Linked DNA regions of Homo sapiens. The protein of the gene in region 2 purifies or fractionates together with the protein of the main gene of each other region. This does not show direct contact. Each region holds a gene or a part of one and is shown on either strand. Other genes may lie near its edges. The genes, in order: C1D, UNC45B and CTCFL.

Region 1 (2,843 bases), on a different chromosome or scaffold from region 2:
TCTGTTTTACTAAAAGGATTTCCCACCTTACAACTATGAACAAGAAAAAATTTGTACTTAAAATAATATTAAAATGCAAGATCTCATTATTTAGTACAAGATTAATAGACTATAATTCTAATCTTAAAAATATCTATAGATGCAACTTCTCCAACTTGTTAATTCCCAAAGAGATTAATAAAAGATGTAATTAACATCTAAACTTAGAGCAGACTATCATGTGGAACAAACTATTTTAACAAGAACTGCACCATAGTCAAATAGATCAACCACACACATCACCCTTTATGGTTCTGAATAAGGTTAATGAGCACAATTTGTCATAAATTTTCCCATAACTCTGAGAAACTGAATTGAATAAAAAGACTATTTTTTTCTTAACACCTTATAAAGATAGGATAAAGGCCGTAGTTATCGTCTTTGGAACGTTGCACCTAGCACTGTATCTGGCAATATAAATGTCATTAAGTATATTTGTCAAAAGAATAAACAAACAACAAGCAAATAAGCAACCCAATGCACTACAGCCATTCAGCTCCTTATTACGTGCTAAGTATTTAAAATTATACATAATAAAATGGAATATACTCAAACTTTTATTTCTACCTAATAATGAAAGAATTACTCACTTAAAAGTTACACAATTTAACAGAACGTAGAGGTGCACTTTCATAAACCAATAACTTAGCTAAAACCAATAATGATTTTCTGCAATTGTATAACATTTTTCATTTAAGCTGTTTTTCTTTTATGAAATTAGAAAATATACAGAAATCCAAATAAATTTCTTTGCAATAAATAACACAAAGACAGGTACACTACACTTGATCTTAACAGTAACACATTTCTCTCATGAAGAGGTTATTTTTAAAAATAGCTAGAAATTTGGAGACAAAGGCAAAAAAAGGAGTAAAATAACTATAAATGTTCACTAATGTTCTTCCACTTCAAAAACTGACATCAGAGACAGAAAAGACCTTCTGCGTCTATCAGTGACTTCCTCTTCATGTGTCATAGAAAGAGTTCAACATGCTTTACAAAATCCATTACATTTTAAGACCATTTCCAATATCTGCTATCATAAATCAAGAAATCCATTTATTCAAGGTTACTTATGGAGAATTAATCACACAGAAAATTTTAACAACTCCTTTTTCAAAAATTAAAGTACTTTACTATACTTGGCATTCCTACACATAATGATATGGATTCAAACACTGAAAGCATTAAGGGCATATAATTAAAATTCATGGGCTTAGACATTTAAAAAAAGGTTTACTATGTAGTACTCTCTGTAACTAATATTCCAGAAAAATAAACCACAATACAAACACAGTGTAATCTCCTTTGGACTTCTCATCTGCTTAAGTGGCATTAGGTAACTTAAGAAGTTGTTCCAAAACACTTGTATGTACTTGATACAGCCTCAAAAACATGAAATAAAAAAAATCTGAAAAAAAATGAGATGAAAAGAACTGTGGACACCATGCATCAGGAACAAAAACTCAAGAATTTCTCTATTTGTGATGACTTCTAAAACCTATCTTCCTAATTTGGAAGGCAAATTTACTCAAAAGATAAAAATACACAGGTCAGTTATACAACATTTTCAGCCTTTATTGAGAGTACAGTCATCATGCCAAAATTCATCCATCAACATACAACCTTATTTCCCATCTAAAGTTAATGAGAATGTATTTTATTTTAAATGGGACATAGAGGCAACATGCCAAGAATTAAAGTACAACCATAAAGTTTTAGTTTCACACTTTGAATATCAACAAAGCAGTAATTCCTAAAATCATGAAAACATGATAAAGTATCTATACAGAAAAAAATGAACATTTAAGTCATTTCACGCTTTCTTAATATCATATAGTGAAAACAGATGTACCTATAATTTCAGCCTACAGATAGCATACTTCATAAGGTCATTATTCATTTAAAATAGTACAAATGTTTACAAAGAACATTTCACTTAAATTTCACAGCTGCTTATAAAATGGTACTTGCAAGACTGACCTATATAAAGAAATAAGAGTCTCATCAAGAGATGGTAAATTATAAATATATAATATATCACAATGTTAAAATCCTCAGTGCTAATCAATAAAGATAATGATCTTTGGAGAGGAAAGTATTTAGCTTTACATATTTACTGTGAATTTACATATTAATAAGAAACACATTTAAACCTTGCCCTGCCACAGAATTATTTTGCGGGGGGGGGGGGGGGGGGGAAGATGTACTTTTTGAATATGTGTACATCAAAACCAAAAAGTTAACTTTTACTTTTTCCTTTATTGGCAACTTTTGATGCATTTTTCGATTTTGGTTCCCAGAGGGCATTTTTTACAAATCTTGAAGCTGCACCTCTGTCCAGCTTGCCAGCCTTTTTCTTGTCTGTTATTTCCTTGACTCTGTTCATATATACTCTGATTCTTTCCTTAAAGATAAAAAACAAAGGCAATAGATTTACTAAGCTATTCGCCACCACTGAATTTTATTATACTGTACACCTTGGTTAAATTCAACATATATGTATTTATTGCCTATTAAAGTGCATGGTGCTAGGAAATGCAAATGAATAGGATAAATACGCTCCCTGCTTGCCTGGAGTTCATAGTCGGAGGGTGGGGAAAGACAGATGTTAAAAAGTCATTTCAGAAGTCTTCTGTTTCCAAAGAGTTAGAATCACACTAAGACATTACTCCAGAAATAAACATCGAATTGAAAGTTTCTAGGTGGTTATACATTTTTGAAAAACACCATTAACATAAATCTACATATTAACTGTTTTGTATCTAAAGTAAAAAACCGGAGCTTTCATATACTTGCAAAAT
Region 2 (3,655 bases):
AGTCTGGCTGGTTGGGGAACACTGCTTGTGCTCCAATCAGCCCTTTATGCTTCCCACATCATGGCATCCATTGCATCGGACTGTAGCTGTGATCTTGCCTGCCTCCCTGGCCAGGCTGCACACAGACTGTGCCTTTAATCTCTGAGAACAAGGTAACAAGAAGGAACAGTGGCCTCCTTTCTCCTGATACAAACTTCCACCTGTGATGACCTGCCCAACATACCACTTCTCTTCCTTCCTTTCCTTCTTTCCCTCTTTCTTTCCTTCTCCTTCCTTCCTTCCTTTCCTTTCCCTTTCTTTCTTTTCTTTTTTCTTTCTTTCTCTTTCTTTCTTTCTTTCTTTCTTTCTTCTTTCCTTTCTTTCTTTCCTTCTTTCCTCTCTCTCCTTCCTTCCCTCCTTTCTTTCTTCCCTCCTTCCTTCCCTCCCTCCTTTCTTCCTCTTTCTTTCTCTTTCTTTTTCTTTCTTTCTTTTTCTTTCTTTCTCCTTCCTCCCTTCTTCTTTTCCCTTCCCTCCTTCCTTTTTTCCTTCCGCCATCCCTTCCTTTCTCTCTCTCTCTCTCTTTCTCTCTTTCTTTATTTCTCTTTTGTATAGAGACAGGATCTTGCTCTGTTACCCAGGCTGGAGTGCAGTAGCACCATCATCATTCACTGCAGCCCTGAATTCCTGGGCTTAAGTGATCCTCCTGCCTCAGCCTCCCAAGTAGCTGGCAGTACAGGTGCACACCACCGTGCCAGGCTAATTTAAAATTTTTTTGTACAGATGGGGTCTCAATATGTTTCCCAAGCTAGTCTTGAATTCCTGGGCTCAAGCAATCCTCCCACCTGGGCCTCCCAAAGCCCTGGGATTACAGGCATGAGCCACCACCCCTGGTCCCATGTCACTTTTCAAAGCTGATCCCCTCAGACCTTTCTCCAGGCTTTCCCAATAGTTTATCTCCTCATTTAGGCCCCCACCATTTCTATCTCCCTGCCCAGTGTGCTGCACTCCAGGACCCTCGGCCCCCAGCCCTAGTTCCAAGCCTTGGCCCACTGCAGCCCCACCTGGCCAGCAGCTCCTTGGTCTGGTCAGTGAGGATGGCACTATCTGCTTTCACCATGCAAGCCAGGGCAGAGATGACACCCGCCTTCAGAAGCCGCTTCACCCGCATGTCTATAAAGTCCTTCTTGTCCTGAGGAGATGAAAAGATGGCAATGTGGGAGGGTCCTGGGTGCCAGGCCAATCGGTATTGGAACCAAAGATGGTGCATTTCTGAATTCTTGGGGTTGGTTGAATAATGGCCTCCAAAGATGTCCATGGCCTGGCCAGGCACAGTGGCTCATGCCTGTAATCCCAGCACTTTGGGAGGCTGAGGCGGGCGGACCACGAGGTTAGGAGATCAAGACCATCCTGGCTAACACGGTAAAACCCTGTCTCTACTGAAAATACAAAAAATGAGCCAGGCGTGGTGGCGGGCACCTGTAGTCCCAGCTGCTCAGGAGGCTGAGGCAGGAGAATGGCATGAACCCGGGGGCAGAGCTTGCAGTGAGCCGAGATCGCACCACTGCACTCCAGCCTGGGCGACACAGCGAGACTCTGTATAAAAAAAAAAAAAAAAATCCATGGCCTAATCTCTGGAACCTGTGAACGTGGGACCTTACATGGCAAAAGGGATTTTGCAGACACGATTAAGTTAAGGATTTTGAGATGAGGGGGTAAGCCTAGATTTCTGTGTGGGCCCAATATAATCACCAGGATCTTTATAAGAGGGAGGCAGGAAGATCAGAGTTAGTACTAGGAGATGTAACAATGGAATGGAAGTGAGGTCAGAGTGGTTCAAGGTCACCAGCCAAAGCATGTAGGTGGCCTCTAGAAGCTGAAAAAGGCAACAAAATGATTCTCCCTTAGAGCCTCCCAAAGAAACCAGCCCTGCTAACACCTTGACTTTAGCCGAGTGAGACTCATTTTAGGACTCTTGACCTCCAGAACTATAAGATTTTTAAAACCGGGCCAGGCGTGGTGGCTCCCGCCTGTAATTCCAGCACTTTGGGAGGCTGAGGTGGGTGGACCACTTGAGCCCAGGAGTTCGAGACCAGCCTGGGCAACATGGCGAAACCCCGTCTCTACTAAAAATACAAAAATTAGCTGGGCATGGTGGAGCGTGTCTATAATCCCAGCTACTCAGGAGGCTGAAGCAGGAGAATTGCTTGAGCCCAAGAGGCGGAGGTTGCAGTGAGCCAAGATTGCACCACTGCACTCCGCCTGGGCGACAGAGGGAGACTCAGTCTCAAAAAAAAAAAAAAAAAAAGTATAAAAATTGCGTTTTAGGCCACAGTGCGTGTGGCAATGTGTTCTAGAAACAATAGGAAACTAAGACACTTCTCCAGATTCCCTCTTCCCAAGCAACTGCCAAGGGGTATACAGCACGCCTTGCTGTCGTGTGTGATTGTCTCTCCTCTCTTCTTCCTTGCCTTACCTAATCCCAAGACAGAGCCTGAGGAGCTGATACCGTAGAAAACCAGTCCCAAAGATTCTCTCATTCACAGAGGAATGAAATAAAAGACGGATAATCCAAAAGACTAAATGATGCGTATATTGTTTTTCTTGGAGAAGGCTGAGGTGGGAGTGGAGGTAGAGAGAGGGTATAGGCAGGAAAGGACACAGTGGATGAAGCCGCCATAACAATGGATTGGGTTTGCTGGAAACCCAAAGTCAACCCAGGGTTAAAGAGTCCCTACAGATAATCCTCAGAGTGAGGAGTGGTGGGGAAGGGGCTGACAACCCTGGGCAAGCCCTGGAAGCCACACTGGAACTTCACAGCCACAGCACATGCTCTGCACCCTTGCCTGGATGAAACATCATGCAGCTTTCAAAAATGATTCAGAGGCCAGGTGTGGTGGCTCATGCCTGGATTCCCAACGCTTTAGGAGGCCGAGGTGGGTGGGTCACTTGAGGTCAGGAGTTTGAGACCAGCCTGACCAATATGGTGAAACCCTGTTTCTACTGAAAACACAAAATTAGCCGGGCATGGTGGTGCATGCCTGGAATTCCAGCTACTTGAGAGACTGAGGCAGGAGAATCACTTGAACCTGGGAGGCAGAGGTTGCATTGAGCCGAGATCTCACCACTGCACTCCAGCCTGGGTGACAGAGCAAGACTCTGTCTCAAAAAATAAATAAATAAAATAAAAATGATTCAGAGAATGAGATGGCAATGTGAAAAACATATTTTTCCAAAATTGGGCACAAAATGATAAATATATTCTAATTATAACTGTGAAAGGAAAAAAGATACATAGAAAAAAAGCCTCTGGTAGGTAACATAACATCAAAATGCCAACAGCAGTCATGTGGAGATGACGTAATCATGAGTGGTTATTTTCTTTTCCCCACATTTTAACTCGTTTTGCAGCATGATTATATTACTTTGATCATTAAAAAAATCTAAATGATTTTATTGGCTGGCAATATCTTGCATATATTCTTAAACAAATCACACACAAATCATATCTTCATGTGCAGGGAATTGTTGGAGAGGGTTCCAGGGGATCTGTGACTTCTGGGCTAATGCTGACCATGCCTCTCCTCTCATGATTCCTACTTAGCACCCATGTCACAAAATCCAGAAATCTGAGAAAATCAAATTGTTATCTGTTGGAGACATGAAATAAAACTGTCTT
Region 3 (3,655 bases), on a different chromosome or scaffold from region 2:
GAGGCCAAGGTGGGAGGATTACTTGAGGCCAGGAGTTTGAGATCAGCCTGGGCAACACAGGGAGACCCCCATCCCTCCAAAAAAATTAGCTGGTTGTGGTGGTGCACCCCTGTAGGCCTAGCTGCTCAGGAGGCTGAGACAGGAGGACCACTTGAGCCCAGGAGTTGGAGGCTACAGTGAGTCACGATCGCACCACTGCACTCTGGCCTCAAAGACAGAGTGAGACCCTGTCTCTAAAATAACTTTTTTAATTAAAAAAAAAAGAATAGTGCTGTTGGTACTGGACTAAGCAATACATTTATGGTTTTATTCTTTTAGGTGTTGTATTAGTTATCTATTTCTGTATGACAGATTACCTCAAAATGGAGTGGCTTAAAACCACAAACATTTATCACCTGACAGATTCTCTGGGTTGGGAACTCGGAAGTGGCTGAACTGGGTGGTCCTGGCTCAGGGCCACTCCTGAGGCTGCAGTCAGGATGTCCGCCAGGGCTGCATCATCCGAAGGCTGGACTGGGGCCAGAGGATCCACTTCCAGGACAGCTCCGCCACACAACTGCTGGCACCGGCCTCAGTTCCTTGCTACAGGGACCTCTCTGCAGGGCTGCTTGAGTGTCCTCCTGACTCAGAGCAAGTGAGAGAGTGCAAGTAGGAAGCCATGGTGCCTTTTGCAGTCTAGTCCTAAAAGCGGCACAACAGCCAGCTGTGGGGGCTCACACCTGTAATCCCAGTACTTCGGGAGGCCAAGGCAGGTGGATAACTTGAGGCCAGGAGCTCAAGACCAGCCTGGCCAACATGGTGAAACCCTGTCTCTACTTTAAAAAAAAAAAAAGAAAATAGCTAGGCGTGGTAGTGCACGCTTGTAATCCCAGCTACTTGGGTGGTTGGGACGGGAGGATCACTTGAACCCAGGAGACAGAGGTTGCAGTGAGCTGAGATTGTGCCACTGGCCTCCAGCCTGGGCGACAGAGCAAGACTCTGTCTCAAAAAAAAAAAAAAAGTGGCACATTCTAGTCACAAGAAATGAACCATGAAGTCCCACCCACACTCGAGTGGGGAATGAAGTTTCTTTTGAAAGGAACAGCATCAAAGAATTTCAGGACATTTAAAAACCACTGCACATGGCTAGCTAGATCCTTGGACCATGTAGGCTTCAGCCTAACTTTATAAAAGTTTTATAAAAGTTGAATTTCCTGAAGTTGACTATTTTTTTAAAAATATTTCTTCTTAAAACAGTAGTGTAGTTGTGTTTTTCTGAGTAGCACAGTGGGATAGTTCTGGAATGTCAACCCTATTAGTTTAAAATTTCAAATAAAAGCTGTGGCAGTGCTCCCAAAACACCATTGCTCATGCAAAAATTGTGAAGAGTTAAAATTAACGAGTAGAATTCTAAAGAGAAAAAAACTGCTCTTTGGTGCAAGAAATAAAAATGTAGAGAAAAGAACAAGTCTGCCTCATGCAGTCCCTCAGAACATAAAATTTTTGAAATTCCGATTCAAGAAAGCATATTTGGACTTGTGTCTAAAATATAAAAAGAACTCTTATAACTCAGTAAATAGACAGATACCCAATGAAAAACAGGTAAAGTATCTAGGCCAGGCGCGGTGGTTCACACCTGTAATCCCAGCACTTTGGGAGGCAGAGGCAGGTGGATCACAAGGTCAGCAGTTCAAGACCAGCCTGGCCAAAATGATGAAACCCCATCTCTACTACAAATACAAAAATTAGCTGGGCATGGTGGCACATGCCTGTAATCCTAGCTGCTCAGGAGGCTGAGGCAGGAGAATTGCTTGAACCCAGGAGGTGGAGGTTGCAGTGAGCTGAGACTGTGCCACTACAGTCCAGCCTGGGCAACAGAGCGAGACTGTCTCAGGAAAAAAACAAAACAAAACAGTTAAAGTATCTAAATAGACCTTTCTCCAAAGAAGACATACAGGTGGCCAGTAAGCGTAGCGTCATTAATCACCAGGGCAACGCAAATCAGTTTCTGCCACGACTTCTTGAGTCTGCCCTTGTGTCATGGAAGCAGCTGTGGATGCAGTGTGTAAATGAATAGACATGGCTGTGTTCCAGTAAAACTTGCTTTCACAAACAGTTGGCAGCCAGATTTGACCCACTGGTTGTCGTTTGCCAACCCCAGTGTCTAAGCATAAAATGGAAGAAGTTTAAACAACCTGTTCCATCACCCCCATTATGTGTAAATTCTTCCTTCTTCCATCATAAACGCAGACAGTCCTGTTAAGCACAGTGGGAAAGTCAAAATGGGAATCAGGCGGGATGTTTCGCATAATTTGCAAATTTCAACACCTGTTGCCAGTTTTTTTACTTTTGCCTAGGACCTTTTCAAAAAGTGAAAATTTTCTGACTTAAGATTATCCTGAGTGTTTGTTAGATGAGACTATGTCACGAGTAGGCTTGACTAGGGGAAGTCTTTGGCTTTTATTCCTGAATGTTGTATACAGTTTCATAACTGCCACCCATGACCTCTGCTCAGTAGCTTCAAGAGAGTAGCTAACAGAAAAGTAAAATCTTTATGGTATGTAGTTGATGGTTATGAAATTGACTGATGTATTGAATTTTTGGTTCAACATCAGTCTTCACTTTAGAGAGTAGAAACATTCTAGAAAAATAAATTTTAAGGCCGGGCGCGGTGGCTCACGCCTGTAATCCCAGCATTTTGGGAGGCCGAGGCGGGCGGATCACGAGGTCAGGAGATCGAGACCATCCTGGCTAACATGGTGAAACCCCATCTCTACTGAAAAATACAAAAAATTAGCCGGGCGTGGTGGCACATGCCTGTAGTCCCAGCTACTCGGGAGGCTGAGGCAGGAGAATGGCATGAACCCGGGAGGCGGAGCTTGCAGTGAGCAGAGATCGTGCCACTGCACTCCAGCCTAGACGAAAGAGCAAGACTCCGTCTCAAAAAATAAATAAATAAATAAATAAATTTTGTCTTCTCATTGATTTCTATTATTAAAAAAAAATACTTAAAGCAAGCTAGCTTTTGGCTAGAGCTAAGCACAACAGAAAGGGTCACCTTTAAAAAGTCATCATTTTTGCACAAGATTATCAAAGGTGCATGCTACCCACAGTTTTCCCAAAGGCCATCTCTTTAACTGTGCATTTTTCAGTGCCTTTGGGGAAGCCGACTCTTGTTATAGAACCAAACTGGGGTCTGCTTGCCTGGTGCAGTAAGACCAGATATCCACACCACAGTTTGCAGCAGGAGTTTATTTGCAGGGTGCCAAGGAAGCAGAAGCTACAGACAAAATTATAAATCAGCGCATGGAGGATACCTTGCCCTAAAAGGGCAGGATATCTTGCAGCAAGGGCTTACAGGTTGTAGGTAGATTCAGAGACTGGTTTGCAATTGGTTAAGGAAGAGAAGTTTTGTTTAAAATTTTGAGAAAAGAGTATTAGCTCTGGTTCACGAGGCATGACCTCCTCTAGGCCTCTCAGGAGGAAATTAAGAACAAAATTAGAACAAATTTAGCAGTGGTCAGATTTCAGCCCCCAGGTCCTCCTTATCTTAGGTCTCCCTGCCGGTGGACCTGTTTGGTAAAGAGCCAGGTTTCTAAAAAACAACTCAGGGACGGATGTTAGGATGTTATCTTGGCCAGTGCGGTGGCTCACGCCTGTAATCTCAGCACTTTGG

Evidence for each region.
Region 1: the proteins of UNC45B (region 2) and C1D purify together in Homo sapiens (co-immunoprecipitation; one large-scale study listed by IntAct). This does not show direct contact.
Region 3: the proteins of UNC45B (region 2) and CTCFL purify together in Homo sapiens (affinity purification with a luminescence readout; one large-scale study listed by IntAct). This does not show direct contact.

What each region holds. Positions count from the first base shown.
Region 1 is NC_000002.12:68,040,608-68,043,450, forward strand, and holds the end of C1D (nuclear nucleic acid-binding protein C1D), read right to left. Parts: intron 2,447-2,843; coding exon 2,282-2,446; 3' UTR 523-2,281; downstream 1-522. UniProt on the Homo sapiens protein: Plays a role in the recruitment of the RNA exosome complex to pre-rRNA to mediate the 3'-5' end processing of the 5.8S rRNA; this function may include MPHOSPH6.
Region 2 is NC_000017.11:35,171,755-35,175,409, reverse strand, and holds part of UNC45B (protein unc-45 homolog B), read right to left. Parts: intron 1,169-3,655; coding exon 1,041-1,168; intron 1-1,040. UniProt on the Homo sapiens protein: Acts as a co-chaperone for HSP90 and is required for proper folding of the myosin motor domain. Plays a role in sarcomere formation during muscle cell development. Is necessary for normal early lens development.
Region 3 is NC_000020.11:57,504,540-57,508,194, reverse strand, and holds part of CTCFL (transcriptional repressor CTCFL), read left to right. Parts: intron 1-318; coding exon of another isoform or gene 319-330; exon of another isoform or gene 331-351; coding exon of another isoform or gene 352-399; exon of another isoform or gene 400-402; coding exon of another isoform or gene 403-612; exon of another isoform or gene 613-1,189; intron 1,190-3,655. UniProt on the Homo sapiens protein: Testis-specific DNA binding protein responsible for insulator function, nuclear architecture and transcriptional control, which probably acts by recruiting epigenetic chromatin modifiers.